7 linked regions of the Homo sapiens genome follow. The protein of the gene in region 4 purifies or fractionates together with the protein of the main gene of each other region. This does not show direct contact. Each region holds a gene or a part of one and is shown on either strand. Other genes may lie near its edges. The genes, in order: CELSR1, OAF, COL12A1, OIT3, CLSTN1, METRNL and NXPH4.

What was found.
Region 1: the proteins of OIT3 (region 4) and CELSR1 purify together in Homo sapiens (affinity purification with mass spectrometry; one large-scale study listed by BioGRID and IntAct). This does not show direct contact.
Region 2: the proteins of OIT3 (region 4) and OAF purify together in Homo sapiens (affinity purification with mass spectrometry; one large-scale study listed by BioGRID and IntAct). This does not show direct contact.
Region 3: the proteins of OIT3 (region 4) and COL12A1 purify together in Homo sapiens (affinity purification with mass spectrometry; one large-scale study listed by BioGRID and IntAct). This does not show direct contact.
Region 5: the proteins of OIT3 (region 4) and CLSTN1 purify together in Homo sapiens (affinity purification with mass spectrometry; one large-scale study listed by BioGRID and IntAct). This does not show direct contact.
Region 6: the proteins of OIT3 (region 4) and METRNL purify together in Homo sapiens (affinity purification with mass spectrometry; one large-scale study listed by BioGRID and IntAct). This does not show direct contact.
Region 7: the proteins of OIT3 (region 4) and NXPH4 purify together in Homo sapiens (affinity purification with mass spectrometry; one large-scale study listed by BioGRID and IntAct). This does not show direct contact.

Annotation. Positions count from the first base shown.
Region 1 is NC_000022.11:46,534,821-46,538,875, forward strand, and holds the start of CELSR1 (cadherin EGF LAG seven-pass G-type receptor 1 isoform 1 precursor), read right to left. Parts: upstream 2,801-4,055; 5' UTR 2,351-2,800; coding exon 1-2,350. UniProt on the Homo sapiens protein: Receptor that may have an important role in cell/cell signaling during nervous system formation.
Region 2 is NC_000011.10:120,224,532-120,228,031, reverse strand, and holds part of OAF (out at first protein homolog precursor), read right to left. Parts: intron 2,372-3,500; coding exon 2,237-2,371; intron 1,217-2,236; coding exon 1,036-1,216; intron 1-1,035.
Region 3 is NC_000006.12:75,122,554-75,126,053, forward strand, and holds part of COL12A1 (collagen alpha-1(XII) chain long), read right to left. Parts: intron 2,721-3,500; coding exon 2,574-2,720; intron 1,819-2,573; coding exon 1,702-1,818; intron 1,542-1,701; coding exon 1,395-1,541; intron 852-1,394; coding exon 777-851; intron 1-776. UniProt on the Homo sapiens protein: Type XII collagen interacts with type I collagen-containing fibrils, the COL1 domain could be associated with the surface of the fibrils, and the COL2 and NC3 domains may be localized in the perifibrillar matrix.
Region 4 is NC_000010.11:72,917,739-72,921,238, reverse strand, and holds part of OIT3 (oncoprotein-induced transcript 3 protein precursor), read right to left. Parts: intron 1-3,500.
Region 5 is NC_000001.11:9,733,466-9,736,965, reverse strand, and holds part of CLSTN1 (calsyntenin-1 isoform 1 precursor), read left to right. Parts: intron 1-923; coding exon 924-1,081; intron 1,082-1,350; coding exon 1,351-1,499; intron 1,500-1,791; coding exon 1,792-2,018; intron 2,019-2,823; coding exon 2,824-2,994; intron 2,995-3,419; coding exon 3,420-3,500. UniProt on the Homo sapiens protein: Postsynaptic adhesion molecule that binds to presynaptic neurexins to mediate both excitatory and inhibitory synapse formation.
Region 6 is NC_000017.11:83,082,609-83,086,108, reverse strand, and holds part of METRNL (meteorin-like protein isoform 1 precursor), read right to left. Parts: intron 1,172-3,500; coding exon 786-1,171; intron 1-785. UniProt on the Homo sapiens protein: Hormone induced following exercise or cold exposure that promotes energy expenditure. Induced either in the skeletal muscle after exercise or in adipose tissue following cold exposure and is present in the circulation.
Region 7 is NC_000012.12:57,223,294-57,226,793, reverse strand, and holds the end of NXPH4 (neurexophilin-4 precursor), read right to left. Parts: intron 1,917-3,500; coding exon 1,047-1,916; coding exon of another isoform or gene 848-1,046; 3' UTR 345-847; downstream 1-344. UniProt on the Homo sapiens protein: May be signaling molecules that resemble neuropeptides and that act by binding to alpha-neurexins and possibly other receptors.

The sequences.
Region 1 (4,055 bases), on a different chromosome or scaffold from region 4:
TGTTGGCATCAGTGACGTTGATTAGGACATGCGCAGTGTGCGACCGTGTGCCGTCGGATGCTGTCACCGCCAGCACGTACTGCTGCTCCTGCTTGTAGTCCAGAGGTAGCGCCAGGGTGATGAGGCCGCCCCCTCTCTGGCTGCTGAGTGCAAAGCGGTTCCGGGTGTTGCCGCCTGTGAGCTGGTAGGTAATCACACTGTTGGCGTCACGGTCGCGGGCCTGCAGGGTCAGCACGCTGCTCCCCACGGCCGCATCCTCATTCAGACGAAGCTCGTAGGTGGGCTGCGTGAACACCGGGTCGTTGTCATTCACGTCCAGCACCGTGATGGACACGCTGGTGGAGGAGCTCATGGGGGGCGAGCCGTGGTCCACCGCCTCCACCCCGAAGCTGTAGTGCTCCACCTCCTCGCGGTCCAGCTCGGCACACACTGTGATCCAACCGGAGCTGTTGTGGATCTGGAAGGGGAAGTCAGGGGTGGGGGCAGGATTCTTAGGCCCAGCGCTGCCGCCCCCCAGAAAGGTGGAGGCCGTGTCCACCAGGCGATAGTGCAGCCGGGCGTTCTCTCCAGAGTCCGCGTCCACCGCCTGAATGTGCACCACGGGGTAGCCCAGGGGCACATTCTCCAGCACCGTGGCCTGGAAGGGGCTGCTCACAAAGATAGGCTCGTTGTCGTTGACATCCAGCACCTGCACAGACACCACCCCTGAAGAATTGATGAGCGGGGGCCGGCCCCCATCCTGGGCCTTAATGCTCAGCGAGTATTTCTGGACATCCTCGAAATCCAAGGGGTTGATCACATCCAGGATCCCGCTCAGCGAGTGCAGGTAGAACTGGCCGGCCACGTTCCCGCTGAGGATGCTGTAGTGAATGGCCGCGTTCTGGCCCTGGTCCCGGTCCGTGGCCTGCACTCGCAGCACAGCCGTGTTGAGCCCCACGTCCTCGGGCACCTGGACCACGTAGTTCTGCTCGCTGAACTGGGGGTAGTTGTCGTTCTCGTCCTCCACCTCGATGTACACGGTGGCCGTGGCACTGAGCGGGCCCGGATTGCGCCCCTGGTCGTTGGCCTCCACCAGGAGCTGGTACTCGGCCGCCTCCTCCCGGTCCAGCACCGCCCGTGTGCTCACCACGCCAGAGCTCTCGTTGAGCTGGAAGACGTCCCACGCGCCCCCCAACACGCGGTAACGCAAGTTGGCGTTGATGGGCGAGTCGCGGTCGCTGGCGCGGATGGTCAGCACCTCGTAGCCCACCTCCAGGTTCTCCCGCACGCGCTCGCGGTACTCCGACTGCTCGAAGACCGGGCTGTGGTCGTTGGTGTCTTTGACCAAGACAGTGATGTAGGTGGTGGCCGAGCGCGGCGGCGTACTGTAGTCCACGGCTTTCACCCTGAGGACGTGCGTCTCCTTGGTCTCGCGGTCCAGTACGCTGTCCGTGCTCACGGCGCCCGTGGCAGAGTCGATTCGGAAGTAGCCCCGGGAGCGCTCGTCGAACAGCCCCTCCATGTAATAGCTCACGCGCTCCTCCTCGCCCTCGATGGTGTAGTGCGCGTGCAGCTGGAGGATGAGGGTGCCCGCCGGTTCGTTCTCAAACAACGCCACCTGGTAGTTGGGCATCGGAAACTTCAGGCTCCCTCTGCCGCTCGTGCCCCGCCGGGCCCGTCGCGCCGGCCCCGCCCGGGCTTCGGGCAAGTTCGGCGGCAGGGGCGGCGATGGGGATGGCGACGCGGAGGGCGTCCCCGCGGTGGCGGCCTCCAGCGCCAGTCCCACCCGGACGGCGCCAGCCGCGCGCCGCAGGGCGCACAGCAGACGCAGGCGGACCGAGCCGCCCGGCGGCAGGCAGATGGGACGGCCGGGACAGCGGGGCCTGGGGCGCGGCGGGCAGCGGCAGGCGGGTAAGGTGGTCGGAGCTGCGAGCGCCGAATGCTGCGCGGCCGCGCAGCCGCCGGGGACGGGGAAGCAGAGCGCCCCGCAGAGCCGGGCACCGGTTCCGCAGAGCCGGGCACGGGCTCCGCAGCCGGGAAGGTGCGTGCGCGCCCGCAGGCGGCGGCTCAGCGCCGTCGGGGCACTGCGGGCCACCAAGCGGACTTGCAGCGGCAGCGGGCGCCCCGCGCCCGAGACGCGCCGACGTCCTGCCAGCCGCCCATCGCGGCCCACGTCCAGCAGCTCCCGCGGCGCCCGGGGCGTGCAAGCGGCGCCCACCGCGTAGGTACAGCCGGGCCGGAGGGCGAAGGCGCGGGTCCCGCCGGGTACGCGCGGCTCCCAGGCGGCCGCTCGCAGCCCCATCGCCGGCAGGGCGGCGGCGGCGGCCAGGAGCAGCAGCACGGGCAGCACGGGCGGCGGCGGCGGCGCCATGGCCCGGAGCCCGAGCCCGAGCCGGGCGCCCGAACACAATCCATGCACCCGGCGCGCCTCCGCATCCACCCGGCGAGGCCGGGGAGCGGCTCCCGGGCGCCCGGCCCTCGGGGCGGTCCGCGTCCCGCCTCCCCGGGGGCCCTGGCGGGGACTGTGGGGACCACGCGCCCGGCCTCCCCCGCAGCTTCCACTTCGAGAGCACTTTGCGAAAGTTTGCGAAGTTGGTTTCAAGATGGCTCCTCCGCGCGTCCCGGGAGGGCGCCGCGCATCAACCTGCGGCGGCGGCGGCGGCTCCAGGCGGCTCCAGGTGGCTCCGGCGCGGGCTCGGCCGGACGGGCGTGGGAAGCGGGGCGGGCCCGGCGCGGGGCGGGGGCTGAGTTCCCGGAGCGGGCTGGGCAGCTCCGCGCCGCGCAGACCCCGGCGGCCGGCTGCTGCCTGGGCGGTGCGCTTGGCCCGCGCCCACTCCGCCCGCGCTCTCCCCGCCCCCGGCCCGGCCCCGCCCCGCCCCCGGCCCAGCGGCGTATTGTTCGGCCCCGGGGGGAGCCGGCTCGGAGGTGCGCGCCGAGAGGATCGCTATGGAGACGCGAGGGCGCGGCCGGGACGGGGACTGGGGCCCTACTCCCCGGAGGCCTCCCCACCCAGCCTCCCGGTGGGGCGGGGCCGAGGCAACAGGGCCGGGAAAGGTGGGGCTGGGGCCCCCGGTGGCCGCTACCCGTGGGGCGGTGGCTCCGCACCTCGGGCTCGGGGCCGCGGCTCAGAGCCTGGCTCCCCACCCCGGCAGAACAGATCCACGGAGACCGCCGCCAGGAGTGCCGCGCGGGTAGGACCCGGGGGCGGAGGACTGGGGCCGAGAGGCCGGGGAGCCCCCCCCCACCCATTAAGGACTGCGGAGGCTGTCGAGGAGGGTTACCCATTTTACAGCAAGACGCACGGAGGCTAAAATGCTTCACCCCGACTAAAACTCCCTGGACTTTGAAGCCCAATAGGCAGCTACCGGATCTGCGTCCCACTTGGTTTAAAGCGCAACTTTTAAATGAAAGAAGAAAACCCCGGTTGACATAAGGGATTTGGAGAGGACGGCGGAGGCGCGCTCATCTCCCGCGTGCGGCCCGACCCGAGCGTTCGCGGACGCATCGCGGAATCCCCGAGCGTCCGGCTCCTCCCGAAGCGGGTTGCGGGGAAGGCGGGGGGCTGCGGGTCCTGGAAGCTGCCTGGGGCAAGCAAGCACCCGCAGGGATTTAGAGCTGTGCCACAGCCCCTGCCCAGCCTCCTACGGAGGACAGCGGGGGGCGGGGGGCAGAGACCTTAGAGCTTTCAGAAAAGTGACACACACCCCCGCCTCCTGCGGGGAACCACGGGGGGCCGGGGGCAGCTTTAGGTTTGCGTGACGGGTACACCTGCCTCCGGATGGGGCACAGGGATAAAGGGGGTGGAGGCTTAGGACTTGGCGACCCCCCGCATGGGCGGGGCTTTGGGACTGTGCCACCAGCGGCTGGGAAGGGCGCGCACTCCCTTGGTGGCGCTCGGGGCGCCGGAGTCCAGTGCAGCCCTTAGGCCTCCCAGTGGTCGGGGACGGTAGGTGGGGGTCGCCTCTTCTCTCCTAGAAGGGCTTCTCCTGGGGCCGGTCGGAGCGGTGGGGGTGGGAGTAATGCGCAGTCACCCCTAGAACGGGTCTTTTTGGCAAGGGAGGGTCGGATCCTGCAGC
Region 2 (3,500 bases), on a different chromosome or scaffold from region 4:
AGGTCAGGTCAGGGTGGCCAGGGCTTGGATCAAATGGGAAAGTGTGCATATTGGGGCGCTGGAGGAGACGGAAGGTACCGGCCTGATTAGGCTCAGGGGCTGTATGGGAGGGGCCAGCTTCTGGAGGACACTTATGTCAAGCTTGCGGCATAGTCTGGGGTGCAGGCCATGGGGGAGGGTGTATGTGTGTGGGGGGCAAGACCACAGCTTGGTTGGGTATTTCTAAATCTGGGCCTGCCCTGGGAGGAGCAGGCATTTCACCAGTGCTCAGTTGGCTGGCAGAAGGCACAGGGGCTCAGAGTTGGAATGGCGCCATTTCCCTCTCCCCTCCACACAGGGGACCTGAGGGCGGTCCTGGAAAAGGTACCCAGAGAGGGGTCAGCGCTGAAGTCACAGAGGTCAGGAAGGCAGGGACCATGCAGTATGGAGAGGAGCTTCCAAGGATCTTGGGGCAGAGATGCTGGCACCAGGGAGGGCCTGAAGCTGATATCTGAGAGGTGTCAGTGGAGGGGGGCAGGGTGTCCTTGTGCCCCACACCCATGACAGAAGGCCCCATCTCTGTGTCCTCACTAAGGGCAGGGACAAGGGGAAGTACCTGGGAATCTCCCTCCACAGGGCCTAGCAGAGTCTGTGTGCCCTGCCTGGAGCAGGGCCCTTTCCTCTGGCTGAATCTTCTCGCTGAATAATCACACAGGCTCCATTTCCTCCAGGAAGCCTTCCCAGACCAACTGTAGCCTGGTTTGGGGGTCCCTCCCTGAACGCCTGTAGCTATCATGGTATTCTATCACACTTAACTCTGTGCAGATCTACCCTGCTGGGGGACAGGAACTGAGTGTCTACATCTCTGATTCCTGCGCCAGTACATCTCTGTAGGTGTTCAGTAAATGTCTCCTGAACAAAGGAAAGGCTAATGATGAGACTTGGCTAATGATGAGACTCAACTAATGATGCCCCTGCCCTCCTCCACTGCTCTGTGCTGTCTCCCTGTCCCCTTCCCTCCGCCCAGCAGCGGGCAGTGCCCAGCTCCCAGCTGACCTTGCTCCAGCCAGAACCGGACATCCTCCTGGCGGGTGTAGATGGCATCCACGGCCTCGGCACACACGTTGTGGAGATGGGGGCTCAGCAGGGCCCCCTGGCTGAAGTTGACAGCGACATCCATGTGCAGATGCTCCAGACCCCGAACCTCCTCCGCCTGCCGCACTGCCCGGGGATTTTTCTGTGTGTGGGAGAGAAGTCACTCCTACCTGGCTTCAGAATGCTCCCTGTCCATCTTCCCCTGACCCTCCAGAGTCAGGCGAGCCCAAGCTGACTGCCTTTAGAACGCTGGGGCCATCTGCAGGGTGGCAGCCCCACCCCTCTCCAACTGGCAGTGAAGCTGATGCCTAGAGTACAGTCGAGCCTTTTCAGCCTCTATCCAGAATGGATGCTTCCCAAACTATGTGCTGGCCACTGGGCTGACCTCTGGGGCTTGATGGAGAATGCTGAGGTGTGGATGGGAGGTGGAGGTGGGTGGGCCAGGCAAGCTGTGCCAGGGCATATGACCTCTGGAATCACGTACTTTCCAACATCCAGGGAACCAAGTCCCTTTGGGAAAGCAGGCAAAGCGCAGGGGCGAGGAGGCCCCCAGGGCAGGCTCTGCTGGGCAGGCCAGGGAACTCAGATGAGGCTGGGGCAAGGCCCTGGGTCTAAGAAGACAGCAGGAGCAGGCCGGCAGCTTTGAGGGTCTTGAACACTTCACATATGTTTGCTCACTGAATTCCCCCATAACCCAGTTTCAGTGAGAAAATTGTGGCTTTGAAGGTAACTTGTCCAATGTCACCCAACTAATGAGTGACGGAGGAGATGTGATGTCTGATCTGACCTCAGAGCCCAAGCCCCTAGCCTGTCACACACGGGGAGGTGCTGGAACCAGATGGGAGAAATCTGAGAGTTGGGGTTCAGTTAGTGATCTGCAGCTCTAGGGTCAGGTTTGGCCTGGGGCAAAATCAGGGGCTCAGGACTCTAGGGTGAATGGGGTACCAGGGATGAGGGCAGGTCAAGGGCAGTGGGTCCAGGAACAGCGTGAAGATGAGGAGCTGGGTGGGAGGCTAAGGTTGGGGAATCAGAGCTTAGAGCTAGGCTGGCTGCAGGGGTCGGGTCTGCAGGTCAGGATCTGGGCCGGGTCTGCGGGATGGGATCTGGGCCGGGTCTGCTGCGGGTCAGGACCTGGGCCAGGCAGGCCTGGTGGGGCACTTACCTGCCGGAGCTTGGCCATGGCCTCACTGGGGATGATCTCATTGTGCTGCAGCTGGGTGACAAAGCAGAGGGCCTGGAACTGACTCTGCCCCTTCTCCAGCTCCCCCAGGATCAGGGCCCGGAAGACCTTCACATCCTGAAGAAGGGCAGGAGGATGGGAACGGCTGGAGGGTGTGGGACCTTCCCACTGGCCCACCGGGTGCTCAGCTTGGCCCCTGAACAGGATGCCTGGACACTGCCGGGCAACAGACACCTCCCTCCTGCTGGTCTAGGAATTTTTATCTTTTCCGTTTAAACCCGTGACTTGAAAGAAAGAACACACCCCAGATGTTCCAAAGATCCTGGAAAACTGACAAAGTGAACCACTAGAGTTTTTCCCAGCTGATGATTCCTCTCGGCAGAACCCCTTAACGTCACCCTGATCAGGGTGGGTCAGGGCCTCTACAGGCACCTGATCAGGGCATCATGGAGGAGGGCTGGACTTTTCCAGTACCGATTCCAGAGTTCCTCTTTTTTTTTTTTCTTTGTAGTTGTAATGGCTAGAAATCTTAGACATTCTTATTCAGTAGATCTGGGGAGAGGTCTCAAGATGCCCTTGGTGCTTCTGATTGGCCAGGCTCCTGGCCACCGACCACTGAGTGAGTGGAGTGGTGGGGCCGGGACGGGGTGAGGGCAGAGTGGGAGGCTGGCTGCAGCTGTTGCAGCCTTCCGGCCTGAGGGAGCTAGGATGCCTCGCCTCTTCCTTTCCCTCCCCACTTCCCCTTTCCCCCATGGGGTCGCTAATGGCATTGCCGCAGTCCAAGGGCTCCTTCCTGTTACTGACTCACTGTGTGAATGGGGGGTCTGCAGCAGGATGGAGGGAGTAGAGCTGTAGGGTGGGCTGGGGCCCCCTTCCCTATCCGGCTGCTGGAGCCCTGTGCTCTGCTCACCTGTACCGCTCACCACATGAGAAGTGGCCCCTTGCCTTCTTACCCATCTCTGTGACTTGATTAACTCTGCTCCCAGTGAGAAGTTAGTGGGTCCCAGTCAGAAGTGGTCTACATCTGTCAAGGCCCCTCCTGTGGTGGAGGCACCCTGACCTCAGTGACCATTCTCTGCTGGGAACCCCTATGGCTCTGCACTGAGACTTAGAATGACAGCTCTGTGGATCATCTATTAATGCCCGGGCCCCAGCTCCCCCCACCACACAGTCACTGAGTACTTGCTGTACACCCGCGAGAACAGAAGTGTCTCAGCAACAGGCTCTGAGTGGCCCCCTTGGAGTC
Region 3 (3,500 bases), on a different chromosome or scaffold from region 4:
TTACTGAATTTCTTTCTGTATCTAATTTAAAGGAATCCATTATTATTTTACCCCACAATAATACACTTTTAATTTTTAATTTTACTTATATAATAGGTTTAACGAAGTTGTAACGTTCGACATCCTTCTAAGATAAAATAAAAATATCTGAAATGCTTTCTATTAAATGCTGGAAACAGCATATGAGAAAAGAATAATACAGTAGTTATTTAACTAAATTTAATTTGACAAAGTGCTAGAGAATTGCCCTCAAATGCTGAGAGATCAACCTTAATAAATCAGTATGTCGTTTCACCAGTTCACTGCAAGTTACAATTATCTTTCAAATTTTGGTGAATGGAAAATTTTTTAGCATTGTATAATCCAGGGAACTTCTCAGGTTGGACACCAGGAATTTTAAAGCCAACAGCCTCAGGGCTTCGGTCGCAAATATAGCCAAAAGGGTTCACAGCGCTTACTGATGCCAGCAGCTAGCAGAAAGAAATGTCCACCATGTAACTATGGACCATGGAAGACCTAAATCTGTAAAACTGAGGAAACAGACTTCCAGCTGAAGATCTGGAATAATTTATGACTGATTTTATTCACACCAAAATGTGCCCAGAGATGGAGAGAAACAAATTACTGGTTATCTTTTCTTTCAATCTAAAAACTCTTCAGCAGCAATAATAGATCAGAAATGTTCTATATTAATTGTAAATGATGCACATGCAGCGTAAATAAGAAGTCTGTAACTCCCTATCAGCTGAACGTATTGCCTATTTAGCTGTACTTACCATCCCGGGCTGGTGGAATGGTGGGAGGGGGAGGAGGTGTGGGTGGCTCTGTAGGGGCTTCTGTTGGTTTCACAGCTAAAATTTAAAAATAATAATTATAAAAACACACCATGTGCACATTTGATATCCCAGAAAGTAAATTTTAAGAGCAATTTAAATCCTGGATACCAAATCAAGTCGTACAAAATGAGACACCATTGTCATCGGTACTGACATGCTGGGGATTTTATTCCATCCAAATTGATGTCACTGGTAGTCATTCAACATCCACTACAGCTACAGAAAATAAAGATCTAAAGGGAAAATGTAAGGCCTTCAGATAGGGTCAAATGAGTAAAAGTCACTAATATGAATTCACCTTCTCAGCGAGAGCCATCTCTCCCTCCTTTAGCCCTTCCTCAAAGTAGCACCAACTCAATAACAGGGACAACTTGCAAATTGCTACAGAAAAAGGTCCTGAACCAGCTTTAGACTCCACATTCAGGAATCTGCCATCATCCCATCATTATTGCTACCCCTACGGAGAGGTACCTGCACAGGATTCACTTAAGTCTTCCTTACCTAGAGCATTCTATTCTAAAGCCTTATGAAAGCTTTCCAGATTCCTCAAAAACTTACTGGTATGTTCTTTAACAGAGACTCCTGGTCCCTCGAGATTTGGTGTCTGCACAAAAACAGTGACACCATAATCAGTGTCTGGTGAAAGGCCAGTGAAGCAGTGACTGGTTTCTGATCCACGCACTGTAATTTCTTGTCCCCTTGTTCCTGATTATGACAACAAAGGAAAATGCCAGTGTCATCACCAATTATATTTCAAGAAAATTTTATATCGCATTGTTATAAACAAAATGGCATCTTCTTTACTGAAATTTAAAATGTTTCCACTACATGCTCCAGATCATTTTTTTCTTTTTTACACACATACCATCTGCAGGGCTTAGTTTTAGCCTGTAGGAGGTGGCTGCCCGGTGAGGTGACCATTTGACACAGAATGTATCCCACCCAATCTGGTAAGTTTTCAGATCTGTTACATTTAAATATACTACAAAATAAAGAAAGAAAGAGATTTACTTTGTAAATTGAGGCAAAAAGTGTACTTTTAATCATAACACAATTTTCAAACTTTCACTGTGGCTAAAAAAAAGTTCAAAATTGTATTATGTTTCCTTATAAGAAACATACATGAATCATATTTAAAAATGTGGTACTGCCAAAATAGACCCCCCTTTCTTTCGCTGATTTTCAAGGAAAGGAAATTCCATATAGTCCCTCTCAAAACTAAGAATTTCAAAAACATCTCATGGAAAATAATGAAAACAATTTCTAAAAGGCTATCTGCTAAGTCGTTAAATAGTTATCAAAGCAATGGTGACCTTAAAATATATCTGTGGACTGAATCACACTAATCATGATTCAATAATTAAGTCAAATTAAATCAATGAATTTAGGTAATATATATCTTGGTATCAAATGTCAAGAAGAACTAAGTAGCATCACAGATCTAATTTTACAGGTCATTCATGGATAAAATGACAATTTCTATAATTTTTATCTTTTAAAATTCAAAGTATAATATTTTATGTGAAATACACAAATTTCTCACCATATATATTTTTATATACTCAATTATAATATTTATGTATTTGAATAGGTATTTTGTCTAACCAGACACAAAATAGCCTGCCTACATAATGCTGAGGAAACATGTATATGTTCAGAAACAGGAAATTAAAACAGGCTGACCTGGTAATTTCTACTACAGTTTTTCTCACAACCATGAAAATATCCATGACTCACATGTAGTGCCTTGATCTGTCAAGGGGACACTGAGTCCAGAATCATATTGAGCATAAACATTCACATCGTAGGTGGTGCTGGGATTGAGATTGTGTAAGGTATATGATGTCATTTCTCCAACAAAGGCTTCCATGGGCTCATTGGAACCTTTATTAACAACCACAAAAATACACAGAAACATGCCATCAATAGCATGAAATTTTGCTTAAAATTAAAGATCTTATAGTCAAAGGGTATTATGAACACGATTAATTCCATAGTCCTCATACACTTACTCACTGGGGCACATGCTATGTTATATGACAAATATGAAACTGTAAGCAGACACTGAATCCTTCACCCTCCTATTCTCAAAGCATAGCACAGTATTTGGAATATAGTAGGTATATAATCAATGTTTCTTTAGTGAATGAATTCTCAAGCTTCTTTCTCAAGCCCTATTTTGCCAACATAGTGTTTTGCATATAGTAGGTGTCCAACTGACACTTTTTCATTTATTGTAGAGATAATTTAAGAATTTCTATCTTGGACCTCATTCCACATACTTTGGCTGCTAAACTCCTTAGTTACCAACCCCACTTTCTTTTTTAAGTTCTCTTTCTATTTCTTACATAGGTTCAAATTTTACTTCCTTTATCTTGCCATCTCTCTTTCATGTTTTTTCTAGTTCATACTCTTACTGGATATATGGAAGATGCCCTAAGAAATCTGCATTTTTCTTCCAGTTTCTCTAAGAATACAGACAAAATATTAAAACAAAAATAACAAATAATTTAATCAAGGTGATACTAATTTAGGTGAAATTTTCAGAGGGGATTTGAAAGCAAGGCTGTCATGAATAAGCTGCATGGAATCTATGCCCAAAATAAAATAATACCTGGGCATAGTGGGAAAAATACATAGGTATATTGATGTAATATGCATTAT
Region 4 (3,500 bases):
GCAATCCTAGCTTCCAACAAAACAGACTTTAAACTAGCAAAGATCAAAGAAGACAAAGAAGAATGTCACATAATGATAAAGGGTTCAATTCAACAAGAAGAGCTAACTATCGTAAATATATATGCACCCAACACAGGGGCACCCAGATTCATAAAGCAAGTTTTTAGAGGCCTTCAAAGAGACTTAGATTCCCACACAATAATAGTGGGAGACTTTAACACCCCACTGACAATATTAGATCATCAAGACAGAAATTAACAAAGATATTTAGGACCTGAACTCAGCTCTGGATCAACTGGACTTGATAATTATCTACAGAAGTCTCCACCCCAAAACAACAGAATATACATTCTTCTCATCACCATATGATACTTACTCTAAAATTGATCCATAATTGGAAGTAAAACACTCCTCAGCAAATGCAAAAGAACTGAAATCATAACAGGCTCTCAGATGACAGCACAATCGAATTAGAACTCAAGACTAAGAAATTCACTCAAAACCATACAATTACATGGAAATGTAATAACCTGCTTCTGAATGACTTTTGGGTAAATAATGAAATTAAGCAGAAAACAAGAAGTTCTTTGAAACTAATGAAAACAAAGATACAACATACCAGAATCTCAGGGGCACAGGTTAGGCAGTGTTAAGAGAGAAATTTATAGCACTAAATGCCCACATCAAAAGCTAGAAAGATTTTAAGTTAACAACCCGACATCACAACTAAAAGAACTAGAGAACCAAGAGCAAACAAATCCCAAAGCTAGCAGAAGACAAGAAATAACCAAAATTAGAGGTGAACTGGAAGAGACAGAGACACAAAAAACCATTCAAAAGATCAACAAATCTAGGAGCTGGTTTTTCCAAAAAGTTAATAAAATAGATAGGCCACTAGCTAAACTAATAAGGAAGAAAAGAGAGAAGAATCAAATAAACACAATCAGAAATGATAAGGGGGATAATACCCCTGGCCCCACAGAAATACAAACAACCATCAGAGAATATTATAAACACCTCTATGCATATAAGCTAGAAAATCTAGAAGAAATGGATAAATTCCTGGACACATACACCCTCCCAAGACTGTGAATCCCTGAACAAACCAACAATGAGGCTCTGAAATTGAGGCAGTAATAGCCTACAACCAAAAAAAAGCCCAGGACCAGACAGATTCACAGCTGAATTCTACCCCCTGTACAAAGAAGAGCTGGTACCATTCCTACTGAAACTATTTCAAAAAATTGAAAGGGAGGGACTCTTACTTAAGTCATTCTATGAGGCCAGCATCATCCTGAACCAAAATCTGGCAGAGACACAACAAAAAAAGGAAACCTCAGGCCAATATCCTTGATGAACATTGATGCAAAAATCCTCAACAAAATACTGGCAAACTGAATCCAGCAGCACATCAAAAATCTTATTCACCACGATCAAGTAGGCTTCATCCCCAGGATGCAAGATTGGTTCAACATATGCAAATCAATAAATGTGATTCATCACATAAATAAAACTAAAGGCAAAAACCATATGATTATCTCAACAGATGCAGAAAAGGATTTCAATAAATTTTGGCATCCTTTCATGTTAAAAACGCTCAATAAACTAGGTGTTGAAGGAATATACTTCAAAATAATAAGAGCCATATATGACAAACCCATAGCCAACATCATACTGAATGGGCAAAAGCTGGAAGCATTCCCCTTCAAAACAAGCACAAGACAAAGATGCACTCTCTCACCACTCCTATTCAATATAGTGTTGGAAGTTCTGGCCAGAGCAATCAGGCAAGAGAAAGAAATAAAGGGCATTCAAATAGGAAGAGAGGAGTCAAACTATCCCTGTCTGCAGATGACAAGATTCCATATCTAGAAAACCCTATCATCTCAGCCCAAAAGCTTCTTAAGCTGATAAACAACTTCAGCAGTCTCAGAATACAAAATCAATGGTGCAAAAATGCCGGCATTCTTATATACAAACAACAGTCAAGCCGAGAGCCAAATCACAAATGAACTCCCATTCACAATTGCCACGAAAAGAATAAAATAACTAGGAAAACAGCTAACAAGAGAAGTGAAAGATCTCTAAAAGGAGAACTATAAACCACTGTTTAAAGAAATCAGAGATGACACAAACAAATGGAAATACATAGGAAGAATCAATATTATTAAAATGACCATATTGCCCAAAGCAATTTATAGACTCACTGCTTTCCCATTAAACTACCACTGATATTCTTTGCAGAAAAATCTATTTTAAAATTCATATCGAATCAAAAAAGAGCCTGAATAGCCAAGGCAATCCTAAGCAAAAGAACAAAGCTGGAGGAATCATGCTACCCAACTTCAAATTATGCTACAGGGCTACAGTAATCAAAACAGCATGGTATTGGTACAAGAACAGACACAGATCAATGGAACAGAAAAGAGAACCCAGAAATAAGACTGCACACCTACAACTCTCTGATCTTCAACAAACCTGACAAAAACAAGCAATGAGGAAACGGTGCTGGGATACCTGGCTAACCATATGCAGAAAATTGAAACTGGACCCCTTCCTTACACCATATACGAAAATTAACTCAAGATGGGTTAAAAACTTAAGTGTACCCTGGTGTGATTCTGTCCTGTGCGGCTGTTCTCTTGAGCAGTGGTGGTTTATCTCCATCCGCCTTCTCTCCCACCTAAGTGTGTGCCGCCACCCGATGGAAGATTCGATGGACATGGACATGAGCCTCCTGAGGCCCCAGAACTATCTTTTTGGTTGTGAATTAAGGCTGACAAAGATGATCACTTTAAGGTGGATAATGATGAAGATGAGCACCAGTTATCTTTAAAAACAGTCAGTTTAAGGGCTGGTGCAAAGGACGAATTGCACATTGTTGAAGCAGAGGCAATGAATTACGAAGGCAGTCCAATTAAAGTCACACTGGCAACTTTGAAAATGTCTGTATAGCCAACGGTTTCTCTTGGGGGCTTTGAAATAACACCCCCAGTGATCTTACAGTTGAAGTGTGGTTTAGGGACAGTGCATATTAGTGGACAGCACTTAGTAGCTGTGGAGGAAGATGCAGAGTCAGAAGGTGAAGAGGAGGAGGATGTGAAACTCTTAAGTATAACTGGAAAGCAGTCTGCCCCTGGAGGTGGTAGCAAGGTTCCACAGAAAAAAGTAAAACTTGCTGCTGAGGAAGATGATGATGATGATGATGATGACGATGAAGAAGATGAAGATGATGATGAAGATAATGATGATAATGATGAAGATAATGAGGAAGCTGAAGAAAAAGCACCAGTGAAGAAATCTATACAAGATACTCCAGCCAAAAATGTACAGAAGTCAAATCAGAATGGAAAAGACTCAAAACCATCATCAACACCAAGATCAAAAGGACAAGAATCCTTCAAAAAACAGGAAAAAACTCCTAAAACACCAAAAGGACCTAGTTCTGTAGAAGACATTAAAGCAAAAATGCAAGCAAGTACAGAAAAAGGTGATTCTCT
Region 5 (3,500 bases), on a different chromosome or scaffold from region 4:
AAGTAGCTGGGACTACAGGCATGCACCACCATGCCCAGCTAATATTTATATTTTTAGTAGAGACGGGGTTTCGCCATGTTCGCCAGGCTGGTCTCAAACTCTGACCTCAGGTGATCCACCCGCCTCGGCCTCCTGAAGCGCTGGGATTACAGGCGTGAGCCACCATGCCTGGCAAATAGCCGTTTCTTAGAAACCTCAATTCCTAGTCATGATTTACAGTGCCTGATTTCTGTACCAGAATGAGACACATTGCTGAAAATTTGTCCCTTTTCCTTTTCAGTTTAAGAACAAGGTTTAGTGTAACCTGTTTCTGGCTCTTTGTTGTCATCTGTCAAGGGCCATTTTCTGGGTTTTGGTTTTCGTTGTAACATCTGCACTTCTCAGCAATCCTCAGGAGGAGGCAGGAAGGATGGGACTTAACACCATAGCATCCTTGAAATAGGCCGTTCCATGCAGGGAGTATTTTAAGCCTCCCTTTTATCCTCCCTGCCTCGCTTGTGTGGGTTCATTCCCCAGGGCGTGCCAGGTAGAGAAAACAGCCATGTGGAACCCAGCCAGCTGAGAAGGCAGTGGCTGGAGAGGCTGGTGGCGTAGGAAGTGTCACCATGCACCCTGGTGATGAGAACAGGGTAGGCCACCTTACCAGGTAGTGGCCAGAGGTGTGGGGACCCTCAGGGGACCTCTTGGCTTCAGGTGAGACACCCCCAACTCTCCCTTTCTCCAGGCCATGTGCATGATCATAAACGGTTTAATTTCTTCATTGCGCTTCCATGTAGATTGCAAGGCTAACAGGACTTGGTATGAACTAACCCGCATGTCCATCCACTGAGCTGCCAGCACCGGTAACACCGTGTTGAGTGAGAAGTGAGTTGGGCGATGCTGGGTTGCACGCCTGACTTCGCCTTTTCTCCCCTGACCCAAAGGTGGCGACCTGCACATGACCCAGTTTTTCCGAGGCAATCTGGCTGGCTTAACTCTCCGTTCCGGGAAACTCGCGGATAAGAAGGTGATCGACTGTCTGTATACCTGCAAGGAGGGGCTGGACCTGCAGGTCCTCGAAGACAGTGGCAGAGGCGTGCAGGTAACACCGAGCGCTCGACTGCACACCACTCATGGGCCCCTTAGACTACAGCCCCGGAGGCTGGTGGGATGAGGGAGTGAGTAATCTGTGATTGATACGTTTACTGTTGGGTAAAAGAGTTGTGTTCACTGGACTTAAACGAGCTTTTCTTTTTCAAGTCAGCAATTCAAATCGAACCCAGGCCAGTCCCCTTTGTGGAGGCATCTGTGGTTTCAGCTCCTGCGGTTACTGGCTTATTCTTCTCCTCTCTGTGGCTGGTGTGATTTCAGATCCAAGCACACCCCAGCCAGTTGGTATTGACCTTGGAGGGAGAAGACCTCGGGGAATTGGATAAGGCCATGCAGCACATCTCGTACCTGAACTCCCGGCAGTTCCCCACGCCCGGAATTCGCAGACTCAAAATCACCAGCACAATCAAGTACGTCCTGATTTTTAACAGCCGGCCTGTTTTGCCCAATGACACTTGTATATTTAGGTTTTTAAGACAGCCTAACCCCTTCTGTAAGGAAAGGTGAGCCATCGTGTGTAACCAGAAAGTGTGGGGCAGAGAGCTGAGTGATATTTACGCATCTTGTTTGCAAGTGTGTTCCTGGAGTGGCCCCGGCAGGTGTTAGTGGGGGCCTCTGTATCCCACCTCCATGTGCCTTTGCACAGGTGGGCTCCAAGATCGGCTCCCAAAGCCCTGACCCTTCCCCATTTCTTGCTGGCAGGTGTTTTAACGAGGCCACCTGCATTTCGGTCCCCCCGGTAGATGGCTACGTGATGGTTTTACAGCCCGAGGAGCCCAAGATCAGCCTGAGTGGCGTCCACCATTTTGCCCGAGCAGCTTCTGAATTTGAAAGCTCAGAAGGGGTGTTCCTTTTCCCTGAGCTTCGCATCATCAGCACCATCACGAGAGAAGTGGAGCCTGAAGGGGACGGGGCTGAGGACCCCACAGGTAATGTGCTCTGTGGGGCGCGGGCTCCCTCGCCTCGGCCGGAAACCCCATTGTCCCCATGTACTTGGCGGGGCTCTTTGTCTCTGTGGGATTTGGGGAGGTTTTAATCTTTCGTTGGTGTTCTCTCGGGTGTGCTTCTGGAATCTGACCCGTGAGCTGGAGCTCATGGTGATCTCTGGAATCCCATCTGGAGGGGTCTTACATCTTTTCCTGGTTGCTGCCAGGCTTTGAGATGTGGCTTGAGGTTGAGGGGTTGAGGGCACTTACGGGAGACACTGCTTGCACCTGCCAGGCTGGCCAGCCCATGGAGGCACAATGTCCCCACAATTCTTGCTCAGGACACATGAAACTCCCCCCCTTTTTTTTTTTTTTTGAGATGGAGTCTCACTCTGTCGCCCAGGCTGGAGTGCAATGGTGTCATCTTGGCTAACTGCAGCATCCACCTCCTGAGTTCAAGCGATTCTCCTGCCTCAGCCTCCCGAATAGCTGGGATTACAGGGACCTGCCACAACGCCCGGTTAATTTTTGTATTTTTAGTAGAGACGGGCTTTCACCCTGTTGGCCAGGCTGGTCTCAAACTCCTGACCTCAGGTGATCCACCCGTCTTGGCCTCCCAAAGTGCTGGGATTACAGGCGTGAGCCACTGCGCCCAGCCGTTTCTTGAAAGCAACTCTCGCTTGCTTCTGTCGTTGGTCCTTACGAGAGCCATGTAGGTTTGGGGTGAGCCGGCAGGGCATCCAGTGTGCCCCGCCACGCTGGGCCCCACTGCCCCTACTTAATATTTCTGGTTGGGCCTCTTTTGCAGTTCAAGAATCACTGGTGTCCGAGGAGATCGTGCACGACCTGGATACCTGTGAGGTCACGGTGGAGGGAGAGGAGCTGAACCACGAGCAGGAGAGCCTGGAGGTGGACATGGCCCGCCTGCAGCAGAAGGGCATTGAAGTGAGCAGCTCTGAACTGGGCATGACCTTCACAGGTAAGGGGAGCGCTGCAGCCACGCAGGTGGGCCAGGCTGCAAGAGGGGACTTTGAGAGCTCTTGGCTGGCTGCTGCCTGCCATCTGAGAATGTTGAGTTATCTTAGAGGGAGATGGGGAAGGAGCACGTTCGCTGGGATCATTGTTGGCTGCACGCATACTCCTGTCTCCTGGACAGGTACCGGATGTGTAGCCACTACTCTCTAAAGGGGGAGGGTTGAGGCGTGGGATGACACGTCCCCCACAGAGGGAAGAATGCCCCTGTGCACATTGCATTTATTCCCATGGCTAGAAAGCCAACTTGTGTGACCCCTTGGCCTAGCTAACCTGGGTGTCTAATTGAGCCTGCCTGTGCTGACGGCTGCAGCCCTGCCCATGCTCCTGCCCTAAGCCACCCGGCAATCTTCCCCCTTTCAACCCCTGCAGGCGTGGACACCATGGCCAGCTACGAGGAGGTTTTGCACCTGCTGCGCTATCGGAACTGGCATGCCAGGTCCTTGCTTGACC
Region 6 (3,500 bases), on a different chromosome or scaffold from region 4:
TCCTGGTGTCTACCCACAGAATTTTCTAGAGACCAACACAGCCCTCCACGAAGGACCTCTCCCCCAAGCACAGGCGTCCAGAGACGCCACGTGACACCTCCACTCCCTGCCGGCCACACAGGGAAGCTGTCTGTTTATCGTACCCACAAGACCCCTCTGGGACGGGGGTGGCCCCATGTTCTGGGCGTCACAGCTCAGCACCGCTCAGGGCTGAGCCAGCCTCAGCTCCCACCCAAAAATGGACGTTTCAGGGTCTTTAGCCGACACCACAGACACCCAGCCAATTCCCAGGGCAGTTTGAATGGCAAAAGCACCCGTTTCAAAGGTGCTACACGATCCACAAGCATGGGGGCGCGTCCGACCCAGCACTGGCCCGGCCGCCACAGGGGGATGCTCACCATGCTCCCCAGACACACCTCCAGGGAGAGAGGCCCCGCTCGGCCAAGGCCATGCCGCCCGAAACACTAACCCAGATGGGCCAGTCTTTTCAAAGGTGGTTTTAGTTGGAAAGGCTGCATTTCCAAGATGGTTTAGTTTAGACATCCCACACCCCCCTACACCATGTCACACCCCCTAGGAGGGCCCCTCTGCGGGCGCCAGTGTCCCCCAACCCCAGCCACCTGGGGGGCTCTTCAGGCAAAACAGTCATGTCCGAAGCACAGACACAGAAGGGTTTTCACCAAGGCTGAGCAGACGAGGGGACAGGAAGAAATCAGAGACACCTGCCACATCACCAGCCCCGTGATGACGAGGCCCGCCGCCCCCGCCCCAGGCAGGACACTCACCAGACAGCTCGTGCAGGTCCGACGCCCTGTGCCTCCTAACCAGCTCGTACTGGAAGCCTGTGGTCCTCCGGCCGATATCCTGCTGCGGCGTGGCCTCCACGAACAGGCCGCCCTGCTCCAGGCCAAAACACTGCACCCGGCCGGGCCTGCCGTCCCCGTCTGGTACCAGCAGTCTCAGTTCTCCAGTTTTTTCCAAATAAATATTGGCCCCCGAGGAGTCCGTGAAGGACCTGATGCACACGGTCAGGTGCCGGGCAGGCGAGAAGGTGTTGGGCCGCAGGTTAACGATGAGAGCACCTGTTGGGTACATCCACTCCACGGCACCCGCCGCACAGCGCAGATACACCTGCTCCACCTCCTTCCTGTGTGCCTCGTGCGTCAGCCCGCTGCAGAGGAGAGACACTGTCAGCCAGGCCCGGAGCTCCCGTCACACACCCCACCCGCACCCACAGAGAGTCAGTGAGGACGATACCCGCTCCAAATGATGGCGGCTCCTGGACCCACCCGCTGCCGGCCACAGGTGCCACACGGACCCCTGCCCGTGAGGCAGGCCGGCGCCATCTCCGCCCTTCGGCACAAGGGCCCCACCCAGTTCCTTCCAGTGCACCTGCACCAAGAGCCATGGTGGGGCGGGGCCGAGCTCCCGGGAGTGCAGGCGGTGCTTGTCCCCAGGCCCTCCAGACACCCTCCAACACTCAAGAGTCTGCGCCTCTGCTGCCGTAGCGTCAAACACCAATCTCTGCGATGTCCCTGAATCAGGGTGGCTGGAGGTGCTGGGGCAGTGGGATGGAGCCCCAGGGAAGGGATGGATTCCTCCAGAATATCACGGAGTATCACAGGAATGCCAGCAGGCCCTGTGTACCAACCCTGGTTCCAGATGACCACGAGGGCTGGGACGCTAGAGGTAAAGCGAAGGTGGGGCCCCACCACGTGTGAAGGAGGAGCCCTGGGATGCAACCTGCCCAGAGAGCAGCTTTTAAGTTAATCCAGAGTGTTGGCAGTTTGGGGGGAAGGAGGTTGTAGATGAGTTTTGTCTTTTAGCACCTCATTAAGCATAGATGTTTGTACATTTCTCAAAGTAATGACTTGACCGTTTTCTGCAAGCCTGAAGACCCTGCACTGCCGACGGTATTTGTAAATATAAGCTATCATTACAGCAAGACTCACCACAAAAGCGAGGCGAACTTCCTCCACAGGGTGAGTAGTGTGTGAGTAGCAAGCTAAGTTCACCCTCATACATGCTAAACAGAAAAAAATGAAGTGTGCTACACTCTTGGAGAGGCAGGTCCTGAGTAGAAACAGTTATATTTTCAAGAAACTGAAACATCAAAACCCTCACGCTTCTCAACACTTTAACGTAAATGCCAGCTCGTGGCTAACAGCCACGTCATAACCAAGTGGGCCTGGAACTAACCCGGTGACTTCAACTAAGTGTTTTATTACGCAGATCTCAGACAGGTTCACCCACATTCTTAGGATTTTTATGTGAAATAAGCAATGCTGTTTCCAGAGCCCTGGCCTGAGCGAGTCACCAGAAACCCTTTCTGCAGCAGAGAAAATGCATCACATATGGTTTGCATTTACCGCTGGTGACTCACACTCTGGGCCCCCAAACCTCACTCTTCATAGGCTGCAGGCCACATCAGAGGGTGGTGTCGAGGGTGCACCCCTCCTCACCCTCTCCCCACCCCGACAAGGCCCCAGGTCACGAGTGGCCAGGCCTAGCCGGCTGCCAGGATCACACACCCAGAACAGACTCACAAATTACAGCCCATAAAGCTCACACAAGCTCATCTAACACGTGTGTGGGCAAGGGCACGATGATCGTGCTGTGTGGAAACTGGACTCGGTGAGTGGCTGATACACTCAGCTACAGTCAGCTCTCTTCTTATGCAGCCTCATCGTCACGTCTCTCCCTCCCGTCTCTGGCATCGAGGCCACTGTCCTCCTGCCCGTGCTCAGGCACCGAGCCTCGACCCTCTCTCCACATACACCGTCCTGACACGTTGCCTCCCTCTCGGGGAGTCCTGAAGGTCGAGGGAGCGGGCTCTGGTCACCTCTGACAGCACTGCCTTCATCTGAGCAGGCGAGGGGAACAGCCACAACTCAGCTGGGGACAGGCGGCCAACCCACCTCTGCCCAGGAGGAGGCCGACTTGAGCCTGGGGGCCGTCCTGGCCTAGCACATGCTACCCGCATCTGGTGGGCACGCCTGGCTCCACCCACTCAGAAGACACTGGGCAAAAAGAGGAAGAGGACAAAATGAAGGTGGACACAGAAGAAAGAAGACACCCGGCTACCCCGGCCTTCACCTGACGTCTTCTCAGCGCACTCAGACGGGTCTGCACCCAGCACAGGGCCTGCTCCCCTCTCCTCTCACATTCTCCCGAAACATCCAGACCAACGGGACTCCAACCAGACCCGCTGACGTAGGGATTTTCACATTAAAATCAGTAGCACATGATGCGCAAGACCCGTGTAGACAAAAAAAGTTAAACGATGCATCCTTCAGCCTGGGACCCAGCAGACCTCGGCACGAAGTCCGAGACTCATGGTCTGTGCTGGTTCCTACCAGAAAATCGAGTGCCTCAAATCTCTCACCTCCAAATATCCAGCACCTCAGCAAACCTGAAAACAGAGTCTGTTTATGCAAAATTGCTGGCATTGCAAAAATGTGACCTATCTTTAATGGTCATGGATGAGGGCATTTTGTGAT
Region 7 (3,500 bases), on a different chromosome or scaffold from region 4:
CGCTCTGCCTACACTGTCCCTGTCCATCCCATTCAAGGTCTTACACCTCCTTCCCCAAATCGTCCGCTGGTGATCCCCACTCAGGTCTCATTTCCATCCCACTTGCTGCAGCTTCCCTTCGCCCACCTCAGGGAGGAGAATCCCAACCTCAGGCGGGGCTCCTACCCCGAGGGTAACCCTCAGCTCTCTTTGATCTGGTCTTTGGTGACTTCCAAGGTGCTAGCTCTGTCAGTCTTTGTCTTGGTTTCCCCAAGAGCCGCTGAGGGAGAAGGCCTTGGCCAGGTCTCTACCACATAGAAGCCCCACGCCACCTCCCCATTCCCTACAAAGGTCTCACACAGGCGTGTATTGGATTTCACTTTATTTTGTTCCCTTTCCCGTCTGTTTTGGCGTAGAAAAAATATCACCGAGAGGAAGCAGCAGGAGAGGGCAGGTGGAGCTCGACTGCCTGGACTGGAGGGGGGCGGGCAGGGGCAGGGGCCGGGGGCAGGGCCAGGGCCTCAGCCCAGGGGTTCTGCTTCCGGTACCCTAATAGGGTTTGGAGGAAAAGGGGACAGGCATATGGCAGGCAGAATGGTGGGAGGACAGGCCGAGGTTTTTAGGCCTTTACAGTCTTAGGCGGGGTAGGGTGAAGCAGGACAAGCGCTGGGGGATGGGAAAGTCAGGGTGGGGTGAGGGTGCCAGGCCAGGAGTTATTAAAGCTGCGGGGAAAGGGAGTGCGCAGCCTAGCGCCAAGGGTGAAAAGGGGACCCACTGTGGACCCAGGGGACATTGGGACCGCCTCCAAGCCCCGCCTATTCTGGGGCTGCACTCTTATCCCTTTCACTTTGGGGTGTACTGGAGGGGGCTACCCCAGCCTTGCGGGCACTCCGCATAAGGAAAAGGGCACCCACGCTAGCTGAGGGTCCCGAGAAGCCATTCCCCTCCGCCCCCAGAGTGGAAGGAGTGGGCGACATGGCCACAGGAGCGGCAGAACACTGGGAAGGGGGTCCCACCTAGTGAGGCTGGGATTTGGCGGGAGGCTCAGGACTGGCTGGGGAGGGGCGCTATCCGAAGTAGGGGTGCTCACTCTGGAAGTTATAGTCTGGGCACACCTTCTGCACCAGTTTGTAGTCAAAGCTGAGGAAAGAGACGAAGATACAGATGACTTTGAAGGGCTTGGCACAGAGCCAGGCGGCCTGGCTCTGCGTGTGCTCGGTGAAGCACACCTGCGACGGGTCGTACAGGCACGGTCGGTGCTTGCGCGCGCGGTTTGTCTTCTCATACTCCACGTGGCAATTGAAAGCGCGTGACTCTTTGGCCCCAGGCACTCCCAACGCGCCCCCAAGCGGCCCCGCCAGTGCGCCCCCGAGGGAGCCCCCAAGCCCGGGCCCCGCCGCTGCTGCTGCCATCCCCAGCGGGGGCCCCAGCCCAGGAAGCACCCCCTCCAGGGCGAGCGTAGACTGCAGAGGGTGGGGGACAGGCCCGGGCAGCCAGACTCCTCCGAACTCGACACGCTTGGAGGGCGGCACGATGCTGACACTGAGGTTGCCCAGGCTGGACGAGTTGTGGCGGAAATACACACTGAAGGTACCGTTCACATGGTCCACGATCTTGCCGGTCACCAGCAGCGAAAACTTGAGGGTATGCACCCGAAAGTAGAAGTCCCCCCAGCCGAAGATCTTTTTGGCGCGCGCCGCCTTGATGGACGGCTTCCTCTTGGTGCGCTGCGCGGGCAACGCCCCGGCTGCCCCTGCCCGGGCCAGCGCCCCCGTGTGGTTGGTCGGCCAGGCCCAGCTCCAGGCGCGGCCCACGCCTAGGCCGTCCGAAGACCTTGGCTCTGGGAGCTGCTGGCCGGGGGCACCCGCTCCGGCCGCGGCGGGGCGCAGCCCCAGGTACTGCGGCCTTCCGGACTCTGGTATCTGGGCACTGACGGCCTGTGCACGAAGAAAGAGGAGAGAGAGACGCTGGGGTTGTCCCCCGCCATCCTGCCAGAGCCCTATCGACGCCAGTCCCTTTCCACAGCCGCTAGGAGACCAAATGGAATCACGCAGTCCCGCAGCGGGCAGGGAGCGTGCCTTGGAGGAGAACTGCAGCCCTTTCAAGCTATGTAGTCTTGGCCCAGTCACTTCATGGATCTGGGCCTCAGTTTGTACATCTGTGAAATGACGTCAAGAATCCTGATGTGGCCCACAGAGCTCCAATGAGGGCCAAAAACCCAAAGCCAGTGTGAAGGTGAGTAGGGAGTGGAGCTCTGGATCCTGGCTCATCTTTCCTGGCCCGGCACCTGGTTGGTTCCAGTAATGAGCCAGGGAGGGACTGGACTCTGAGCAAACTGAGCCAGGGAGGCTGTGACCACATTAACATCCAGCATCAAGAAAGAGGCTCCCGCCCGGCACACGCGGTGACTCACGCCTGTAATCCCAGCACTTTGGGGGGCTGAGGTGGGCAGATTGCCTGAGGTCAGGAGTTCAGTTCGAGACCAGCCTGGCCAACATGGAGAAACCTAATCTCTACTAAAATTAGGCGGGCGTTCTGGGGTGCGCCTGTAGTCCCAGCTATTGGGGAGGCTGAGGTGGAAGAATCACTTGAACCTGGTAGGTGGAGGTTGCAGTAAGCCTAGATCGCACCATTGCACTCCAGCCTGGGCGACAGAGCGAGACTCCCTCTCAGAAAAAAAAGAAAAGAAAAGAAAAAAGGAAAGGAAAAGAAAAAGAAAAAGAAAGAGGCTCCAGGACCTCAGAGACCAGAGCCCCCACCTGGGCCTCAGCCCCAACTGGCCTGCAAGGAGTGAGTGCTGGGAACCAGTTGAGCAGAGGAGGAAAGCCTGGGTATCCCTCCCAGTCGCCAGTGCTCCACTCTGGTGGAGGCCGCCTGGCCGTTCTTTTCCTGGGCTCCAAGGGGGCTAAGGAGCCCCCTCCTGCTCCCACCCGTTCTATGTGTCTCAGGTGGCCACCGATCTTGGAGACAGCATGGGCTCGAGGACAAGATGGATCGAGAGGCAGGAGCGGCCGGGCCAGGCCCGGGCCATCAATTATCTGGGGTAGGGGTGAGTGGGGGTGGCCAGGAGTGAAGGAGACAGGAAGCAAGAGGAAGAAATATGGAGATGCCGCTCCAGCGAGGGGAGCAGGCAAGAGAGGAGCTGCATGTCAGAGTGTGTCAGTCAGCCTGAGCTAGCCACCACCGCCGCGTGCTGTGGCCCTGACTGTGCACAGGTCCCATGGGGGGAGGCAGTACCATGTGTGTCAGCCTGGGGTTCTGGTGTCTCTGTTAGCCCCAAATGGTTGTGTGTGTGTGGCCGGTACATGTGTGTGTGGCTGTGGTGGCTGTGTGGGTGTGTATCTGGATGCCCATGGTTATGAGTCTGAGGAGCCTGTGTGTGTGTGGCTGCTTGTCGTGGCTGCATGTCTGTTGTGTAAATCGGTGACTGTGTGTATGTGCCTGGATTGGCTGGGTGTGTGTGTCAATTTGTGGAGTGGTGTCTGTGTGACTGGTGTGGTTACGTGTCTGGGTTGGCTATA